Linked DNA regions of Homo sapiens. The protein of the gene in region 1 purifies or fractionates together with the protein of each later gene. This does not show direct contact. Each region holds a gene or a part of one and is shown in the gene's direction. Other genes may lie near its edges.

The links.
Region 2: the proteins of TNFSF8 (region 1) and FGFRL1 purify together in Homo sapiens (affinity purification with mass spectrometry; 2 studies listed by BioGRID and IntAct, with this or other methods). This does not show direct contact.
Region 3: the proteins of TNFSF8 (region 1) and PTPN2 purify together in Homo sapiens (co-immunoprecipitation; 3 studies listed by BioGRID and IntAct, with this or other methods). This does not show direct contact.
Region 4: the proteins of TNFSF8 (region 1) and MFSD8 purify together in Homo sapiens (affinity purification with mass spectrometry; 2 studies listed by BioGRID and IntAct, with this or other methods). This does not show direct contact.

The regions. Positions count from the first base shown.
Region 1 is NC_000009.12:114,916,275-114,920,888, reverse strand, and holds part of TNFSF8 (tumor necrosis factor ligand superfamily member 8), read left to right. Parts: intron 1-2,750; coding exon 2,751-2,793; intron 2,794-4,614.
Region 2 is NC_000004.12:1,009,617-1,015,017, forward strand, and holds the start of FGFRL1 (fibroblast growth factor receptor-like 1 precursor), read left to right. Parts: upstream 1-2,009; 5' UTR 2,010-2,338; intron 2,339-2,355; exon of another isoform or gene 2,356-2,371; intron 2,372-2,524; exon of another isoform or gene 2,525-2,661; intron 2,662-2,847; exon of another isoform or gene 2,848-2,853; coding exon of another isoform or gene 2,854-2,869; coding exon 2,870-2,948; intron 2,949-5,401. UniProt on the Homo sapiens protein: Has a negative effect on cell proliferation.
Region 3 is NC_000018.10:12,877,146-12,881,759, reverse strand, and holds part of PTPN2 (tyrosine-protein phosphatase non-receptor type 2), read left to right. Parts: intron 1-4,614. UniProt on the Homo sapiens protein: Non-receptor type tyrosine-specific phosphatase that dephosphorylates receptor protein tyrosine kinases including INSR, EGFR, CSF1R, PDGFR.
Region 4 is NC_000004.12:127,954,582-127,959,195, reverse strand, and holds part of MFSD8 (major facilitator superfamily domain-containing protein 8), read left to right. Parts: intron 1-1,603; coding exon 1,604-1,695; intron 1,696-4,614. UniProt on the Homo sapiens protein: Outward-rectifying chloride channel involved in endolysosomal chloride homeostasis, membrane fusion and function. Conducts chloride currents up to hundreds of picoamperes.

The DNA.
Region 1 (4,614 bases):
AAGACCAGCCTGGTCAACATGGCGAAATCCCGTCTCTACTAAAAATACAAAAATTAGCCGGGGGTGGTGGTGGGCCCCTGTAGTCCCAGCTACTGGGGAGGCTGAGGTAGAGGAATTGCTCGAATCCAGGAGATGGAGGCTACAGTGAGCCGAGATTGCGCCACTGCACTCCAGCCTGGGTGACAGAGTGAGGCTCCATCTCAAAAAGAAAAAAATGCAGAATGTTAAACTCCCCCCAAATCTGCAGAATCAGAATTTGCATTTTAACGAGACTCCCAGGTGATTCATATGCACATTGAAGTTCTAACAGCACTACCTTAAAGCACTATGATTCTTTTCCTCCATAGCTCTTGCCACAACCTGCAATTCTAATTACACATTTATTTATATTTTTTAAATGGCTGCCTTAATGACTAAAGCATAAAATCCATAGGATGTCTTTTAGTGACTAACGTAGTTCCTACCACAGACCAGGTGCTCATTCAAGGTGTGCTGCATGAATGATTCTCTAGGACTTCCCGAACTGCTAGCAGCCTCTGCAATGATGGCTGTACCAGGTTTGCTATTCTAGCCTCTCTCACTGTCCCTGTATATGTCCCTGGGCAGCTTGATGAATTTGATGATTGTGGTAAGACATTTCAATGCAGATATTTTTCTTAGTGCATTTGCACATCATGCTAATCAATGGTCACGCTTGGCAGTAAGTTGTAAGTTGTTTATTAAATTTTAAAATGTTGTGTGTTGTCTCACAAGGGCAACATAAAGGGGAATTTTGTGATATCAAGTTTTCCTGCAAACTGCATGCATAACTGAAAGACTACAAAAACTTAGCTTTGTTAGGTTAAAAGCTTTCAACTAAGGCAACAAAGTCGTAGACTGTTACAGTAGGAAGGGCCTTCCAGGACAAGTTTGCCTCCCTTCCCCTGAGAAGGTAGGGCCCAAATGTTTAAGCTGACTTCCCCCATCTCCAGATTGGTGCTGTGCCAGGGCTTTGCCTTCAGGAGACCTCCTTGACTCACTACCAACCTCTTGCACTAGAGAAGAGATCCATTCATAAGAAAACAAGCTTTCAGCGGAAGGCAAATGACAGACCTCCCAGGGAAATGTTACAATAATAGGGGAACTCCAGATGGTCCTAGTGTTCATACAGAACACTAAGAAAATAAGCTGTGGGCGGCTGCTAATTTCTTGCTTTGGTAGAGGTTAGGAAGTTGGTTTTTTCGCATACACACGCTCACACCTCTCTAGGTCTTTACTAATATTTTAATTCAATGCAATACAGGAGATTCCAACCTGGGCAGGTCAAAAGATGAATAAAATACTTCATTCCTTATTGGCAGAATATTGTATGGGTGTCTCCATGGCTGGAGAGAAAGGGGAGGGACAATCAGGGTGTGAAACTTAGTGTCTGAAGAATTTATTAGGGGAAAAGAACTGTGCCTCTCTGCTTCTGTTAACTCCTTGTTGAGAGTCCTTGAACTAGAACCTCCCTTTAGTCACCTTCAATCCCCAGCCCAGGATTCCCTCCTTCAAAAGACAATCTGTTTCTATCAACCTCTTATTTGTGTAAATATTTATGTATATATTTATTACAGAATAAATAATATACTATGTAAATGTTTAAATATATAATATGCATTTGTATGTATACTACATGTGTATACATATTTGTATATTTAAATATAAACTTGTAATAAATCCATAAGGATGGGGACCCAATTTAATTATGTATGGTGTCCTCACAATGCTTGGCATATAAACACACAATTAATTCAGAATTTCCAACCACAGGAGACATAGAGATGTACCTTCCCAGGTATGTTTACAACATACGTTCACAGATGAATCAAACATGGAAAAAAAAAAAACACATCTACTTTTATGATATACTTGATTATTCTCATGTTGACCAGAAGGAAAAAAAAAGAAAAAAACACCCAAACATATGGAGGGGGGAAAAGCACCAGATTGGGAGTTGAGTCCTGGCTCTAGCCGAGTGTGATAGCTCACACCTGTAATCCCAGCACTTTGGGAGGCTGAGGCGGGTGGACCACAAGGTCAGGAGTTCGAGACCAACCTGGCCAATATGGTGAAACCCTGTGTCTACTAAAAATACAAAACTTAGCTGGGTGTGGTGGTGGGTGCCTGTAGTCCCAGCTACTCTGGAGACTGAGGCAGGAGAATCACCTGAACTGGGAGGCGGAGGTTGCAGTGAGCCAAGATAGTGCCACTGCACTCCAGCCTGGCAACAGAGCAAGACTCCTTTTTTTAATTAGCTGAGTGTAGTGGTGTGCACCTGTACTCCCAGCTACTCAGGAAGCTGAGGCAAGAGGATCGCTTGAACTCAGGAGGATGAAGCTGCAGTGACCCATGATCATACCACTGCACTCCAGCATGGGTGACAGAGTAAAACTTTGTCTAAAAAAAAAAAAAAAGTCCCAGCTCTGGTCCCTGATCTTCTATAAATTAACTATGTGGCCCTAGGCAAGTCATTTTATCTCACTCAACCCCGTGTCTCTTGCCTGTGGAACGGGGACAGTAATCCTCATCTTGCATTTCTAATAGATTGTCAAACAAATGGATAGAAAGCCCATTGGAAACTACATCAGTGAATTAATTTTTAAAATTCAGGTGGAGGATGAATTGTAAATTGCACAGTACTTTAAGGACAACAAAATGAAAAAGAAAAAAAAAAGTTGTTTCAACTGAATGTCACACCTCATGCTGCTTTTTTCTTTCTTTTCTTCCAGGACTCCATTCCCAACTCACCTGACAACGTCCCCCTCAAAGGAGGTAAGATCTTGGAATTAGGTGTAAATGTGTAGTAAGTCATCTAGATAAATGCCATAAAGTGTGAAACCTGATTATCAACCAGAAACAACTCTATGACATGACCCAACAGTAAAGTGGGTAGGGGTGGAGGCAAGGGCTGTTCAGGACTGAGCTGATGCACCTGAATTCATCTTAGCAGCTCCTGAACTCATCCCCACAAGTCTCCCACCAGCTCTTGACACTCCCACTAATGAAAATTCTACCTCTGGCATAGGCAGGACTGCAAGGCAGTGTTGTGTTAAATGCTTGAAACCTGAAATCAGATAAATGGGGGAATGAATCTTGGCTTGACTTCCCACTGGGGAGCCTCAACTCCTCATCTGTTAAATGGGAATAATAATAATACTCACCTCATCAAGGTATTGGAGAAGCCATTCAGATCTCATCTGTAAATTGCTTGGCATGGCAACCAGCACATAGTAATCATTAAATAACTAGTAATAGCTAAAATGCATAATGAAGTCAAGGACTTGTGAAAACAGACTTCCTCCTCACTCCTATATTTCCAATCATTGAAGTCACTAATTAACACGTCGTCTCTACTAGCCTCAGAGAGATGATATGCCGAGTTCAGTTAACATCGATGATGAGAAATTTTCAGATGACCTGATTAATGTTTTTATTGCTCAGAGAAGGAAAAGGAAGACCCAGAGAGGGAAAGTGAAGTATCTCGTCCAAGGTCATACAAAGCCAAGCCTAGAACCCAGAAAGATGTCCTCATCTCTGATACAGTGTCTTTTCTGCCCAAGAACACCAACTCCCATCTCAGTCCTGTAACCTTTAGAACCTAGATGGCAAACACAGCTGGATAGCCAGAAAGCTCAGAGCAAAAAGTAAGGAAGTGAGTTAATGTAGGCACCAGGGTAGTGGCACAAGAGTGTCCTTGAGACCAGAGGACACAGATGACTGGACACAGCTCCTCACACTCACAGCATCACACTTGGAGTGTCCTTCAAGTTTCCCTTGCCCATGCCTTTCCTGTGGTTTATCACCCAGAGACTTCAAAAATAGGGGCAAAAGTCCCCAAAAGACAGGGATTCTGGATCTTTCAAGGCAGACTAATAATCATAGCCTTGTCAACAATATCTCATTTTGGCTGGAATTACTTAGCATGTGACCTCAGTTCCTACCATGTCTATGTAAACAGTCACATTAATATTAAAAGGAGCATAGTAGAATGCAGGGGTAAGCAAACTTTTTCTACGAAGGGCCAGATAGTAAACGTTTAGGCTTTGGGGGTCACTATGTCTCTGTTGCAATTAGTCAGCTCTGCTGTTGTAGTGCTGAGCCAGGCTGACTACACGCAAATAAGTAACCACGGTTGCATTTCCATAAAACGTTATTTATCAAATGAGGTGGTGGGCTGGATTTGGCTTATGAATTGGAGGAGTCACTGCAGGCTTTGGAGACAGATGTTTCAGTTAAACATGTAATGCACGTTCACACGGAGCTTTGGAAAAACCAAAAGGCTCTGAGTGAATATAACTTGCCCCTCCCCACTCCCACTGTTCCACCACCACCTCCACCCAGACTTTCCAAGGAAGATGGAAACTTTTCATTTTTTGACAGGGAGAAGGGATTTTTAACATGAACACGGTCTCAGTGACGAGGATAGTTTTGATTAGGTAATAAGACCTTAGCCATTCTGGATCTCAGTTTCCTCGCCTAAAGAGCACTTCAATGCAAAGTCGCCAAGCATAGGGGCTCTAACTAGTATTCTGGTACCATAATAAAGTTGATAAAGTTTTCATCAGTCCAAAGTGAAGTACAAAAAATAAGGAC
Region 2 (5,401 bases), on another chromosome or scaffold:
GACGGGGCCTGGGCCGGCCGCGGGCTGGGACGTGGCGGGCGGGGCGGGGCGGGGCGGGGCGGGGCGGGGCGAGGAGACGAGGAAAAACGCCTCGGGAGCTGCCGCGCCGGCGCCGCCGCCACCGCCAGAGGGCAGCGCGTGCCGGCGCGGGAGGCCCGGGCCCCGCCCCCGCCCGGCCAGGCCCCGCCCCCTCCCCGTCCCCGCCCCTGTCCGCCTCGGGCCCCGCCCCGTCTGCCGCTCCGCCCCTGGCCCCGCCCCCCGTCCCGGCCCCGCCCGCCAGGGGCCGCGACGCTGCCCGTGCCCCTCCCACTGCCCGCTCATTCGGGGGCCGGCACCTGCCGGCCTGTCCGCTCCCTGCTTATACTTTGCACGCTCGCAGCCACGTTTCCGCACACCTGTCCCCTTTCCACGCACCTGTGTCCGGCAGCCCGCACATCTGTGGGAGCGCTGCCTCCTCGCCAGCTGTCCGGGAAGTTCAGCGCCGCTCTCCCACGGGCGTGAGACCGCCCCACCCACCTGTCCGTGACTGCAGCTCCGGCCGGGAGGGCGGCAGGTGGGCCCCGGCGCTGCTGGCTCCTTGTGGGACAGGGCCGCGGCGGCGGCGCAGGACGTTCTCCCGCCGGGAGGACCACGCGGCGGTCCCTGGACCCTTCCCCGGGTGCACAGCGGCGGCTGCGCCAGCGGGGGCAGGATGGGCCGTCCGAGCGCACCTCCATCCGCCCTCGCGACGCCCACGCTGGCCCAGACGCGGGATTTGGGGTGGAGGACGCTGGGCTGGGAACCAGCACCTTGGGACGGCCGGGTAGTTCGGGCCTTGAGGAGTCCCACACCCTGACAGCTGGCGCCCCCCACGCCCCGCCTAGCTCTCCTCGGCCTGGGGACACCGGCTGCCAGGCCTCTCCAGTTTCAGCCTTTCCTGGGAGGACTTCCTGGAAGAGGGGGCTTCAGGCCCCAGAAAGAGAGGCTGCTCTGGGGGATGGAGGAGGTGCTGGGATGGTGACTCCGCGGAGTCGAGGGTGTGAGGCGGGATGTGGGCAGGCCGTGAGGTTTGTGTTGCAAGACTGGGAGGCAGGATGAGGGGAGGCCATGGGGCGGCTGGAGGTGCGGCCTGGGAGCCCTGCGTGCTGGGCCCTGGGCAGGGACGGCAGGCGAGGCGTGTGGAGGAAGAGCCGCGAAGAGCTGGGCGCTGTCTTCTCCACGCCTCCGTTTCTTCATCTGCTCCTGGGGCCGCCTGCCCGGTAGCGGAGATTGAATCGCATGTTGACGTCTATTACGATGATTAATGTTCTTGTCATTCCCGTCACTAGCAGGTGAGAGGCTGGGAGGCCTCAGGTGGGAACATACCTTTGGCCAAAGGCACCAGGTAACCCGAACGCCCCGGGGAGGACCCCTGCCTGCATCGCCGCGGCCGTCCCCCCCTACCCCGTCCCCAGCAGCTCCGGCTGGGCGAGGCCCTGCTTCTCCCTTCTGCTCCCGAAGACCCCCCGGGGCGCAGACCTGGAAGCCTCGAAGCTCCCGCGGCCGTCCAGTCCGCCCCCTTCTGAGCAACCAGAGAGCGGTCTGGGCCCGGCCCGGGGCTGCGCAGAGGTCAGACTGCCGCGGGCAGGGCCGGAGCCTGCTCTGGGGGTCGCGGAGGTGTCTCGAGAGTTGAGGACCCGACCCGGGCGCGCGCGGGCGCAGGTATGGGGAGGGCGCGGCGGCTCCTGGCCGGTCCTAGGAGCCTGCGGGGACCAAGGGCGCGCGGGCGGGGCCGGGGGCGCGGCGAGGCTCGGGTTGGGGCGGGGCGGGGGCGGGGGCGGGGCCGGACCCGGGGAAGCCGCCCGCCCGCGGGGACGTCCGCACCGCGAGGGTTAAGGCCGGGAGCCCGGCGGGGCGGGGGCGGTGTGCGCGCGCGGATTGGGGAAAAGTTTGGCGGCGGGGCGGGGCACGGGGGAGGGCTGACGCGCGCGGATTGGCCGGAAGTTGTGCCGGGGGCGGGTCGGGGGTCCGGGCTCGGCGCTCGCTCCGGGAGAGTTGACAAAGCCCCGCAGGGAAGGACGCCTCGCGGCGCGGCGCCCCGGGCCCCTCGCCCCGCCGCCCCGGGATCCCGGCCCCGGCCCCCGGCCCCGCGGACTCGCCCCCGCCGCCTGCCCGGTCCGGGACCCCGCGCCCCGAGCGCCCGAGCCCGGACCCCGACCCGGCCCGAGCCGCCCGCGCCCAGGTAGCGCCGCCCCGCCCCGAGACCGGGCCCGGGGGCGCGGGGCGGCGGGATGCGGCGCCCGGGGCGGCGATGACCGCGGAGCGCACGCCGCGGGCCCGGCCCTGACCCCGCCGCCCGCCCGCTGAGCCCCCCGCCGAGGTGAGCCCCCCGCGCGCGCGGCCGCGACCCCAGGTGGGCACACGGGGGAGGGCGGGGGTCCGGGGCGGGGGCGGGGAGGGGCGGGTTCGGGGCCCCAGCTGGGCACGGGTCATGCGCGCCGCCGCCGCTCCTGCGGGCCCCCGGCCTGCCCCGCCCCCGCCCCCGCGCCCCACGTGGGCCCCCCCCAGCGCAAATTTGTCCGCTAATGGCGCAGGCGATTATCTGCGGGGCGCTGAGTGTTGTGTGTCCTGCGGGCAGGGCCGGAGTTACAAGCGCCAGGAATCCAGACGGTGTTTGGAGAGGGGGGGCGGCGGGGGAGCCCGGTAATTAGTGTAAACCCTTTGTCTGCCTTTGATACCCACAGCTTCTCCCCGCTGCGGCTTCCTCCGCCTGGAGCGCGGGCGGGGAGGGCCTGTGGGGAGGGCGGCCAGACCCCTGATCCCCGCGGCCCGGGACCGGGGAGGGCGGTATCTCCCAGTTCCACGTGTTAGTGACGGCGCCCCCAATGTCCCCAGGTCCGGACAGGCCGAGATGACGCCGAGCCCCCTGTTGCTGCTCCTGCTGCCGCCGCTGCTGCTGGGGGCCTTCCCGCCGGCCGCCGCCGCCCGAGGTGAGTTCTGGCGCCCAGCCCGGCCAGCCTGGCCTCCGCCAGCGCCGCCCCCTTCCCGCCCGGCCCTGAACCCTGCCACAGTGCCCGCCTGGCACGCGCCATGCCCCGCCCCTGCCGCCCCGCTCGCCAGGCCCCCTTCCTTCCAGGGCCCCCTCACCCATGGGCTGTCCACAGCACCCACCGGGGCTCCCCTAGCTGGCTGGAGGGGTTCCCCTCATGCGTGCTTGCTGGCCAGGTGGGCTTTAGTCCTGGCTCCCCAGGACATGCTCCTGGTCTTGCAAACACTTTCATACTCGTACCTGCAGTCCAGGGCAGCTAATCACCTGTGGATTCTTGGGGAGTGGGCGGTTTGTGGCCACAGTGGACCCGATAAGGACTCTGGGAACCTGCAGAGACCCCCACGGAAGGCAGGATGGGCTATGGGAGATATTGGTAATATACTTGGTGTCTGGGACTGAAACTGACCCCCAGACCCCCAGTCCCCCAGCCGACCTAGCCGTGTGCCCTGGGCCTGCCCAGCTCTAGGCAGGCAGTGCCGGGCGGTTGTGTGGACAAGTCCCCAGAGCCGTGACGCACCCCAGGACTGCGTGCCTCTGGGCACACGCTGTGCTGGCCTGGTACGTGCTCATGGCACCGACATCTAAGTGGCAGCCATGCCCTGGGACCCAGCCCCAGCAAGGACATCCGGAGCCGATGGGTGACGTGTGCCCGCAGACTCATGCCCGCCATGTTCCAGGATCCGGGCACAGCGCTGGCTGCCCCCATGGCTAGGCGGGACCTGTGGCCAGGCCGGCCCTTTGGGCGTGTTGACCACTCAGGATTGTCCGCGCTGTGTCCACCAGTCCTGAGGCTTCGCACCCCTCCCCTGCCGCCCAGCAAGCGCGCCGCATCCAACCTGGCCTTATATGGGCACGTTCGGGTGCTGGGTGGCGGGCGGTGACCAGGTGGGCCTTATGCCACAGCACCCCCCCCTACCCCCCGCCTGCCCACATGGGCCTGGCTGAGCGGCTGCTCTGAGGGCCCGGCAGCGTCCTGGGCTGTGTGGGCACTCAGGCCATACTGGGCGAGCCCCTACCATGGCCAGCGGCCTGGACTTGCATTCTCTTTGATCTGTTTGGCCTCCCCAATCCCTACACCTGCCTGTCCTCTGGCCACTCGGCCAGGGAGGCTCTGGAGGCCTCTGTCCTGCCATGTTTCCTGGCTGGGGCTGAAGCTGACTGGTGGATGGCCACGGTCAGCCATGGCAGTGGGCGGCAGAGCCCGCCTCTTCGTGGAGACGCCCCAGCGGCCACCCCCTTCGCCTTCGTCCTCCTCAGCTGCGGCCTTGGGGCTGAGGATATCCAGCCCTGGCTTTGCGTGGCAAAGGCCCTGGCGGCACTGGGGAGCTGGGATCAAGCTGCTTTCCAAGGGCAGGGGCCTCTGTGGTTTGGGTGGAGGTGGGGAGGAGGTTCTTCCGGACTGTGCTGATTTTCCTAGCGTGGACTAGGGCGCGAGGTCCATCCAAGTGTGTTTCTCCTGCTCTGAACAGCCCACTGTGCACCTTCGTTAGGCCAAGGACCAGCATGCAGAGGGCTTGGGTTATTTTTGAAAAGCCATTTCCCGCTGGGTCATAAGTTCTGGAATCGGCACATCGCTACACTCAGATCATATTTTAAAAGTTCCTCTTTTCCCAAACTTTCACAATCTTGGTGGATTTGTCTTAAACTGCTTTTTTTTTTTCCAATTTGAAAAAATATAGGAATTGGCTTTCTCCCTTTCCATTTTATTTCTCACAGTGGGAACTTGAGAGGTTCTGCATGAAATGTCTTTCACAAATAACTCTGAAGGAAGTCGTTTCAGGGCTTTCTGAGAAGTGCCACCTTTGAACTTTTGCAAGCATGGCCTTGGGGGCCAGCTCTGAGTGGCCTGCCTAGGAGGCCACTCCCCTGTCCTCTGCACCCGGCCAGCTGCGGTGGGCAAGCTGAGCCCTGACCCAGGTGGGCAGGGTGCCTGTCCAGGGGTGCCCCATGCCTGGGGGGTAGCGGGGTCAGTGTCGGCTCCCTGTGGGGGCAAGAGTCTGAAGGGTTGTGATTCGGGGAAGCAATAGCCGTGGGTGTACGGTGCTGACCTCGGCCCCCAGCCAGGCCTCAGGGCCTTCCTCCCTCGCCCCAGGCCCTTCCGGGCAGTGGCTGGCCCGTGTGCAGCGGGCTGAGGTGGACGTGTGGGAGCTGGGCCCAGCCCCTGCAAGGTGGGGAATCGGGCCAGCCGCCCCGTTTCCATCTCGGGGCCCCACTCCTGGAAGGGAAAATAAATCACTGTCCCCTTGGGGGGAGGGAGGGAGCCGTGAACAAAGTCGCCTTTGGCTGGGCCTGGAAACGCCGACCGCAGACTCCTTTATCCATTGTGCGGGAATCAATGGGCCTCCGGGCTCCCTTTCAGCCGCAGGCCCCGCGCTGCGGCCCTGTCAGGGGAAA
Region 3 (4,614 bases), on another chromosome or scaffold:
CCCAAAAAGGGGTACACATGGGAGTTCTGGTGAAGCTTCTCGAGGGAGGGAGGACCTCACCTAAGTCTTGAAAGACATTGGCCAGGGGAAGAGGACAAGGGAGGTGAAGAGAATTACTGTTCCAGCAAGGAGGGAGTGCACAAAGGCACTGAGGGAATGCTGAGAGAACCACCCACAGTTTAGCCTGGAGACTGGTGTGAAGTTGAGATGCTGGAGAGTAAGGCAGAGCCTAGATCAGACTAAGGAATTTGAGCTGTTTAATAGGAACTCATTGTGGAATTGTAAGTCTGGAAATACCATGATCATATTTGCTTCTTTTTTTTTTGACAGAGTCCCGCTCTGTCGCCCAGGCTGGAGTGCAGTGGTGCGACGTCAGCTCACTGCAACCTCTGCCTCCTGGGTTCAAGTGATTCACTTACCTCAGCCTCCTGCGTAGTTGAAATTACAGGCACACACCACCATGCCCGGTTGATTTTTTTGTACTTTTAGTAGAGACAGGGTTTCGACATGTTGGCCAGGCTGGTCTCGAACTCCTGACCTCAGGTGATCCGCCTGCCTCGGCCTCTCAAAGTGCTGGGATTACAGGCATGAGCCACTGCTCTGGGCTGATCATATTTACTTGTTAGCAAGATCGTTCTGACTGCTAGCAGACTGGATGAGGAAAGTGTAGGCACGCAGCACAGGGCAGTAGTCGGTTGGAGTAAACCTGAAGAGACATGATGAGCTTCTGTTAGGCAGTGGCAGGAGGGATGGAGGGGAGATACAGATTTGAAATGAAATGGTAAAGGGGTATACGTTATGTACAAGTTTGGTTTTGAAACTTTAATTCTGTTTGAGGTACCTGCGAGACACTGAAATGAAGCTAGTTGAATGTATAAATTTGGAGTTCGGGAGAGAGGGTCTGAGTAAATGTGATTTTGGAAATCATGAACACATGGGTGATATTTGAGGTCTTAGACATTGATGAGATCATCTAGGGAAGATACAGAGCGTTTGGAAATATCAAAGGCCAAGGACAGAATCTTGACAGACAACATTTAAAAGGATGGGTGGAGAAAGAGGAACTTGCAAAAAAGACTGGTGAGGAACAACCACAGAAGTGGGGAGGAAAGCAGTGGAGGGAGTTGAGGGTGAGCAGGGCCACCTGACAGGTAAGGGCCAGCCTGAGAGGGCCATGACATTGAGCAGCTAGATTAACAGATACCTTAAAGGGAGTTGTGTCAGCGGACTACACAAGACAGATACCTGGAGTTCAGGAGAGAAGGTAGGAGGAAATGCAAACTACCAAGTGTACACTGCTCTTTTTAGAAGCCCAACTTGAAGAAGTGGGGAGAGGTAGCTAAAATGAAGCAAGATTGTGTGACTTCTCACTTAAACCCTTGAACGGCTTTCCGTTGCTCACAGTGTAAATTCAGCCCCTCCTCCGGCTCACAAGACCTCATGGCCTGTGTCTCTTGCTTGATTTCCCCTATCACTTTCCTCCCTCTTTTCCACTGTGTTGTATTCTTGGAAGTGTGTGTGTCCATTCTCCCCTTAGGGCGTTTGTAAATGTTGTTCTCTTTGCCTTGGCACAACTTTCCCCCCTTCTCTTTCCTTTCTTGCTTAAACTGCCTCCTACTCATCCCTGAAGTCTCACTTCCTTGGCAGGCCTTCTTGACCTGCCCATGCTGGGTATGAGCCCCTGTTGCGTACTTCTTTAGCATCCCAAGACTTCCCCTTTCATAGCGGGAATTGGATGTCATACAGCAGCAAATGATTTCGGGAACACAATTTGCATTAAGCAAACCACTATCTTGAAAGTAACACAGCTTGAGTAGGAAAAAAGTGTTTAAGGTGGCTTTCTGCTTTGTTTAGCACAGCAGTGGGTGATGTTTCTGATAATGTTTTTGAAGAGTTGTGCTTTTTTTGGTAATGCTCATGGAGCTGGGAAAAGAAAGGCTTTGCTCTTGAGCAAAAACTGAGTACAACTAAAAGCTGGACTTGCTTAGTGGTAGGAGAACTTGATACCTTGTTGAAATTCTAGCGGGAAAAATGAATTTAGTATTTTGAGTCTGGAACTCTGGTCCCTTATTCCTTTTTGCTCCTTTTGAAAAGTGTCTTTTATTTCATGAGTTTGATAATAGGAGGTTTCTTAGAAATGAATTATTGGGTTGGAGCAGAACAGACTCTGTTAATCTGAGTTTATATTTTTTATTACTTCTTCAGAGTTTCATGAAGGCACTGCCAGTGCTTTGCACAGTATCAGGTGCTTAGTAAGCACTTGAAAATATGTGCTGAATGAATGACTTTTTACGAGGAAAGGGCAACTTGATATATTTATGTGATTGCAGGGATGAACCTAAAGAGAGAGGTGGAGGTTGAAATAGAAGGGATGATTGTTGGAGCCAGAAATCTTAGAAAGCAAGAGTCAATGGGACCAAGAGCACACAGGTGGAAGAATTGATCGTGAAAGAGTGCTGGCCAGGCGGTGGCTCATCCCTGTAATCCCAGCGCTTTGGGAGGCTGAGGTGGGAGGATCACTTGAGGTCAGGAGGTTAGGGCTGCAGTGAGCCATAATTGTGCCACTGCACTACAGACTAGGTGACAGAGTGAGATCCTGTCTCTAAAACAAGAACAGCAAAACAAAGGGTGCAGTTGGAAAAGTTTAATTTGGTCTGATTGTGTGAGGTTAATTCTGACTTTTTGAGTAATGTTCATGATCCCTTTTTGGCTTTTCCTTTTGTCACTGCTGATTGCTGTCTTCATCAGGCTGAGCTTTGAGAAAGGCAGAGAGAAGGAATGGAGTCTGTGTGCCTACTGAGGAAAAGACTAAAACTGGGGAATCGCAAAAGCTATGTTATGGGTTGTTTCTAAGAAGTGATGGCTCAGAAGGAATTTGGCTTATTTATTTTTAAATTCCTTTCTTTTTTAAAGAGTTCTCACTCTGTTGCCCAGTCTGGAGTACAAGTGCAGTGGTGCAATCATAGCTCACTGCAACCTTAAACTCCTGGGCTCAGGTGAGCCTCTCACCTCAGCCTCTTGGAAATTGGTTGATTAATTAGGGTTTATAAACAATGGAACTCCTGACTGACTTCATTTTTCTTTTTTTGAAACCAAGTCTTGCTCTGTCCCCCAGGCTGGAGTGCAGTAGTGTGATCTCAGCTCACTGCAACCTCTGCTCCCCCCAGGTTCAAGCAGTTCTACTGCCTCAGCCTCCCGAGTAGCTGGGATTACAGGTGCCCACCAGCACGCCCAGCTAATTTTTGTATTTTTAGTAGAAACGGGGTTTCACCATGTTTGTCAGGCTGGTCTTGAACTCCTGACCTCAGGTGATCCACCTGCCTCGGCCTCCCAAAGTGCTGCTGGGATTACAGGTGTGAGCCACCACGCCCAGCCACATTTTTCTTTTTCTTTCTTTTTTTCCTTTTTCTTTCTTTTTTTTTCTTTTTCTTTCTTTTCTTTTTGAGACTGGGTCTCACTTTGTCACCCAGTCTGGAGTGCAGTGGCGTGATCTCAGCTCACTGCAGTCTCGACCTCTTGGGCTTTAGACATCCTCCTGCCTCAGTCCCCCACGTAGCTGGGCCTGGCTAATTTTTTTGTATTTTTTGTAGAGACAGGGTTTAACTATTTTGCCCAGGCTGGTCTTCAACTCCTGAGTTCAAGCAATCTGTCCACCTCAGCCTTCCAAAGGCTTAGGATTACAAGCATGAGCCACTGTGCCTGGCCATTTTTCTTTTTTCTTTTTCTTTTTTTGAGACAGTCTTGCTCTGTTGCCCAGGCTGGAGTGCAGTGGCGTCATCTCGGCTCGCTGCAAGCTCTGCCTCCCAGGTTCACGCCATTCTCCTGCCTCAGCCTTCTGAGTAGCTGGGACTACAGGCGCCCGCCAACACTACAGGCGCCCGCCACCACGCCAGGCTAATTTTTTGTATTTTTAGTAGAGACGGGGTTTGACCGTGTTAGCCAGGATGGTCTTGATCTCCTGACTTTGTGATCCACCTGCCTCGGCCTCCCAAAGTGCTGGGATTATAGGCATGAGCCACTGCGCCTGGCCGCCATTTTTCTTTATTAGAAATTTGTAGTTCAAATATTGCTAGAGAACAATTTTTACCATTTGTGAGTCAGCTAATTTTTAGAAGTCAGATATCAAGTGCACACTGTTCTTCTCATACTTACAGCGGGGCAGCCAGTTAGGCAGGTGAATCAAAGCTGTCTTATTCTAAAACACTTCCCTTGCCTACTAGTTACACATTCTCCTGCCTGCTGTCTAATCTCAGTGCTTTTACATGGTTGCACAAACTCTGAATTCCCTTGAAGATTGGCTACTCTCTCACACCTTGGAGTCTTCATGTGTTGGATATACTCCATGCCTACCATATCTATTTGGGAAACATCTTCAAGACTAGACCGTAGTCTCCTTGGGCAAAGTTAAATGCTCCCCCTTCTCTCATTTCTTAGTTCTCTATATTCTTTTATTAGAATATGAACCACATTGTTTTGTAACTGTCTACTTGTCTGTTCTGTGTAGCTCCTTGAGGGTGGTCTTTTTTTTTCTTTGTTTTCCCACCACCTACCTACGGGACCTGAAACATGTTAGATGCTCAGTAAATATTCAGTAAACACAGGAAAACTGTTCCC
Region 4 (4,614 bases), on another chromosome or scaffold:
TCCTGGTCAAACATTTCTGGCAAGAATATCACATGGGTTATGTTGAGAACACCCCACTACATTACATCAAAAGGTACAGGATGCCAGGACATCCCACTACTGGGAATGCCAAACATGACCACTTGTTAAGAGGGTGACTGCTATATCTTTCAATTATAAAGGTTCATGTTCCATTTTGTAATTAGTAAGCAGACACTGGGGTGACATTTGAGGGCCTTTGACTATCCTCTCCTTAACAATCTTCCAGTCAGTTGTTTTAGCATCCATTGATGATCCTTCCATTATAGCATAGAAAGTGGCCATTAAATTATTATTTTCTAATTTTATCCTTTCAATATTTAATAATTGTCATTTGTCATTAAAAGAAGAAAGATTTTGTCTGAGCTCTAAATCAGTCACTCAAACAATTTTATTATTTTTTTAGAATCAAATAATTTACTTCTTGATTCCCTAACTTAGATATATCTGGTTTTTTATTCAAATTCTAGTATATTGATTTCAAAGTATGGGCATCTAGGGTTCTGGTATTTTTCTCAGGTAAGCTACATTATTTTTATTTTTTTCTTATCTCCTTTGACTCAGAAGAGGTTTGTTTATATGGAATGACATATATAGTGTTAAACACTTTAAATATATTAGGAACTAATATGTTTGGCATATAATACATCTAAAAACATTGTTTCTCTTCTTCCTTTCCTCTTTACCACTCCCAACCATATCACGTTTGAAAAAAAAAAGTTTCTTTTTTGAAGACTAATTTGACAGTTCTAAGGCTTATTTTTAAGAAATTAATCTTGGAACATAAGAAGGCATTTTGTCTGTTCTGCATGTCTTGATTATTTGAAAAGATAATGCTCACGTTAAGGTGAACTTGTTAACTCTTTCTATTGTGTGTGTGAAAATGTAATGAGTATATAGACTCATGTGTCACCTAATGGAGGTAAGATATCTACTTAGTATACATGCCTTTGGTCCAGATCAGACGCTTATCCAAAAGATCACTTAAGTCTGGGGAGTCATGGTCTCTCTTTGGTCTGCTGATAAAATTTATCTGGTAACCCATTTAGGAGGTCCCAGGGCTGAAAATGTCTTAGGTTACGTTAAACCTTCCTGGTATCATTCCTGTTTTCTGAAGTAGGAAGCCAAAAGAGCTTCCTGCAGCAATTTAATTTGCTGTCATCAAGTAGAGCATGTTATAATGATGACAGTTATTATTTTTTAGTACTTAGTAGCTACGGGGGATCTAGTTGTAGCTAGTTTATTTGATTTATCTTGACGTAATTTATTCATTTTTACAAATTGCAACACTCTTGATTAATAAATCTGTGCATGTCAATGGTAGCAAAATAATTGCCTTGCAAAAAGTTTCCTCTTTTAAAACTATACTGTTTCCCAAATTTCTGTATACAATAATGCATATATACAATCCATGGAAATTCAAAAAAATAATGCTTATTCATAGATAAATTAGTGTAGCAGAATCAATATTGGTAAATTCTACCTCTATCACATCATTTTCATAACTAGAGAATAAAACTGTTGACACTTAAGATCCACATGTAATGAGATAAATTTATACTACTTTTTTCTTCTTTACACCTAGAGAATGGGACATTTTAGAGACTGAAGAGCATTATAAGAGCCGATGGAGATCTATTAGGATTTTATATCTTACTATGTTTCTCAGCAGTGTAGGTAAGTATTAGAAATACATAATTTTAACAATTCAGATCAGATGTCATATTTTAACTTCATTTACTTCATTTACTTTCATTGCCTCTGAAATTATCTTTATTGTGCTAAAAAATACGTGACATAAATTTACCGTGTTACCATATCTAAGTTCAATAGCCTTAAGTATATCCACATTGTTGTGCAACCAATCCCTAGAACATTTTCATCTTGCAAAAGAGAAACTCTATACCCATTAAACAACTCCCTATTTTCCCATCCCCCAAGCCCTAGCAAACTTTGTTTCTTGGAATTTGACTATTCTAGATAGCTCATATAAATGGAATTATATAGTATTTTTTTTCTTGTGATGAGATTATTTCACTCAATGTCCTCAAGTTGGTTCATGTTGCACTTGTGATAATTTCCTTTTATTTAAAGGCTGTATAGTTCATTATATGTATTCTAGGGTAGGAGAAATTTTTCCTCTATTCTCCTATGTGCTTAAGGCTTGTGAATTAAGCTGACAAAAGAAAGACTAACAGTTAAAAAAGTATACAAATTTATTTGATGTTAATATTTTTTAATGAAAAGAAACAAATAACATTAAGGAATGTACATACAAACGAAACTAGACAACTACTAAGAGTCCCTAACACTTTCATGTACTCACAAAAGTATTTCATCTTTTTTTTTTTTTTTTTTTGAGACGGAGTTTCACTCTTGTTGCCCAGGCTGGAGTGCAATGGCACGATCTCAGCTCACTGCAACCTCCACCTCCCAGATTCAAGCGATTCGCCTGCCCCAGCCTGCCAAGTATCTGGGATTACAGGCATGTGCCACCACCCCTGGCTAATTTTGTATTTTTAGTAGAGACGGGATGTCTCCATGTTGGTCAGGCTGGTCTCGAACTCCCAACCTCAGGTGATCTGCCCACCTCGGCCTCCCAAAGTGCTGCGATTACAGGCGTGAGTCACCGCCCCCAGTTAAAAATATTTCATCTTTTTTCTTTTTTTTTTTTTTTCAAGACGGAGTTTCGCACTGTCGCCCAGGCTGGAGTGCAGTGGCGCGATCTCGGCTCACTGCAAGCTCCGCCTCCCAGGTTCGCGTGATTCTCCTGCCTCAGCCTCCCGAGTAGCTGGGACTACAGACACCCGCCACCACGCTAATTGTTTTATATTTTTAGTAGAGACGGGGTTTCACTGTGTTAGCCGGGATGTCTTGATCTCCTGACCTCGTGATCTGCCAGACTCAGCCTCCCAAAGTGCTGGAATTACAGGCCTGAGCCACCGCACCTGGCCAAAAGTATTTCATCTTTACAGCCATCAGTCAATTATTTGTTCTGCTACTTCTTGAAGATGTGCAAAATTTCTTTTTAAAAAAATTTTATTATTTATTATTATTTATTCATTTTTTGAGGTGGAGTCGCCCAGGCTGGAGTGCAGTGGTGTGATCTCGGCTTACTGCAACCTCTGCCTCCTGGGTTCGAGCAATTCTTGTGCCTTAGCCTCCCGAGTAGCTGGGACTACAGGCGCACGCTATCACGCCCAGCTAATTTTTTTGTATCTTTAGTAGAGATGGGGTTTCACGGCGTTAGCCAGGATGGTCTCGATCTCGTGACCTCATGATCTGCCCGCCTCAGCCTCCCAAAGTGCTGGGATTACAGGCGTGAGCCACCCCGCCTGGCCAGTGCAAAATTTCTTAAGTTTAAATATACAGTCTTAATTATACCTGTGTCTTAATGTCCCAAGACAGATTGTAGGTAACAGAATCTCAATTGTGCCTCAAAGAATTAACAACAAAACAAAATTCAATCTATTCTCTGCATTCAGGCAGAAAGGGGGAGAGCAGAGAACCCTTCCTGCATCTGCTATTTCTCGGTTGCCTTCAGTTTGAGATAATTAATATGGCAAAACAGCAGATTTTTGGAGTAGCATACTCTGATTGCCTTCAGTATATACCACATTTTTTTTTTTTTTTTTTTTGAGACAAAGTCTCGCTCTGTCGTCCAAGCTGGAGTGCAGTGGTGTGATCTTGGCTCACTGAAACCTCCGCCTGCGGGGTTCAAGCAATTCTCTGCCTCAGCCTCCCAGGTAGCTGGGATTACAGTCACCCACCACCATGCCCGGCTAATTTTTGTATTTTTAGTAGAGATGGGGTTTCACCATCTTGGCCAGGCTGGTCTTGAACTCCTGACCTCGTGATCCACCGGCCTCAGCCTCCCAAAGTGCTAGGATTACAGCCTAGCCTGGCCTACCACATTTTGTTTAGCCATTTATCTGTCGATGGACATTTGGGTTGCTTCCACCTCTTGGCTGTTGTGAATAGTGCTGCTGTCAATATGGGTGTGCAAATATCTCTTCAAGATCCTGCTTTTAGTCCTTTTGGGTATATATCCAGAAGTGAAATTGCTGGATCATATTATGATTTTCTTTTTAATTTTTTAATTTTTTGGAAAATTGCCATACTGTTTTCCATAGCAGCCGTACCATTTTATTTACATTCTCAACAACAGTCAGGGTTCCAATTTTTTCACATCCTTGCCAACGTTAACTTTCTTTTGGATAGTAGTCATCCTAGTGGATGAGATGGTATCTTGTTTTGATTTGCATCTTCTTAATGATTAGTGATGTTGAACATGTTTCTTGTGCTTTCTGTCCATTTGTATATCTTCTTTGGAGAAGTGTTTGTTCAAGACCATTGCCCATTTATTAGTTGGATTTTTTGTTGTTGAGTTGTAGGAATTCTTTATATACTCTGAATGTTAGCCCCTTATCCAATATATGATTTGTAAATATTTTCTCCCATTCCAGGACTCTTCTATTCAGTGTGCTAAATGTATCCTGTGATTCACATTCACAGAAGTGTTAAATACTGATGTAGTCCACCTTCTCTGTTTTTTTCTTTTTGAGACAGAGTCTTGCTTTGTTGCCCAAGTTGGAG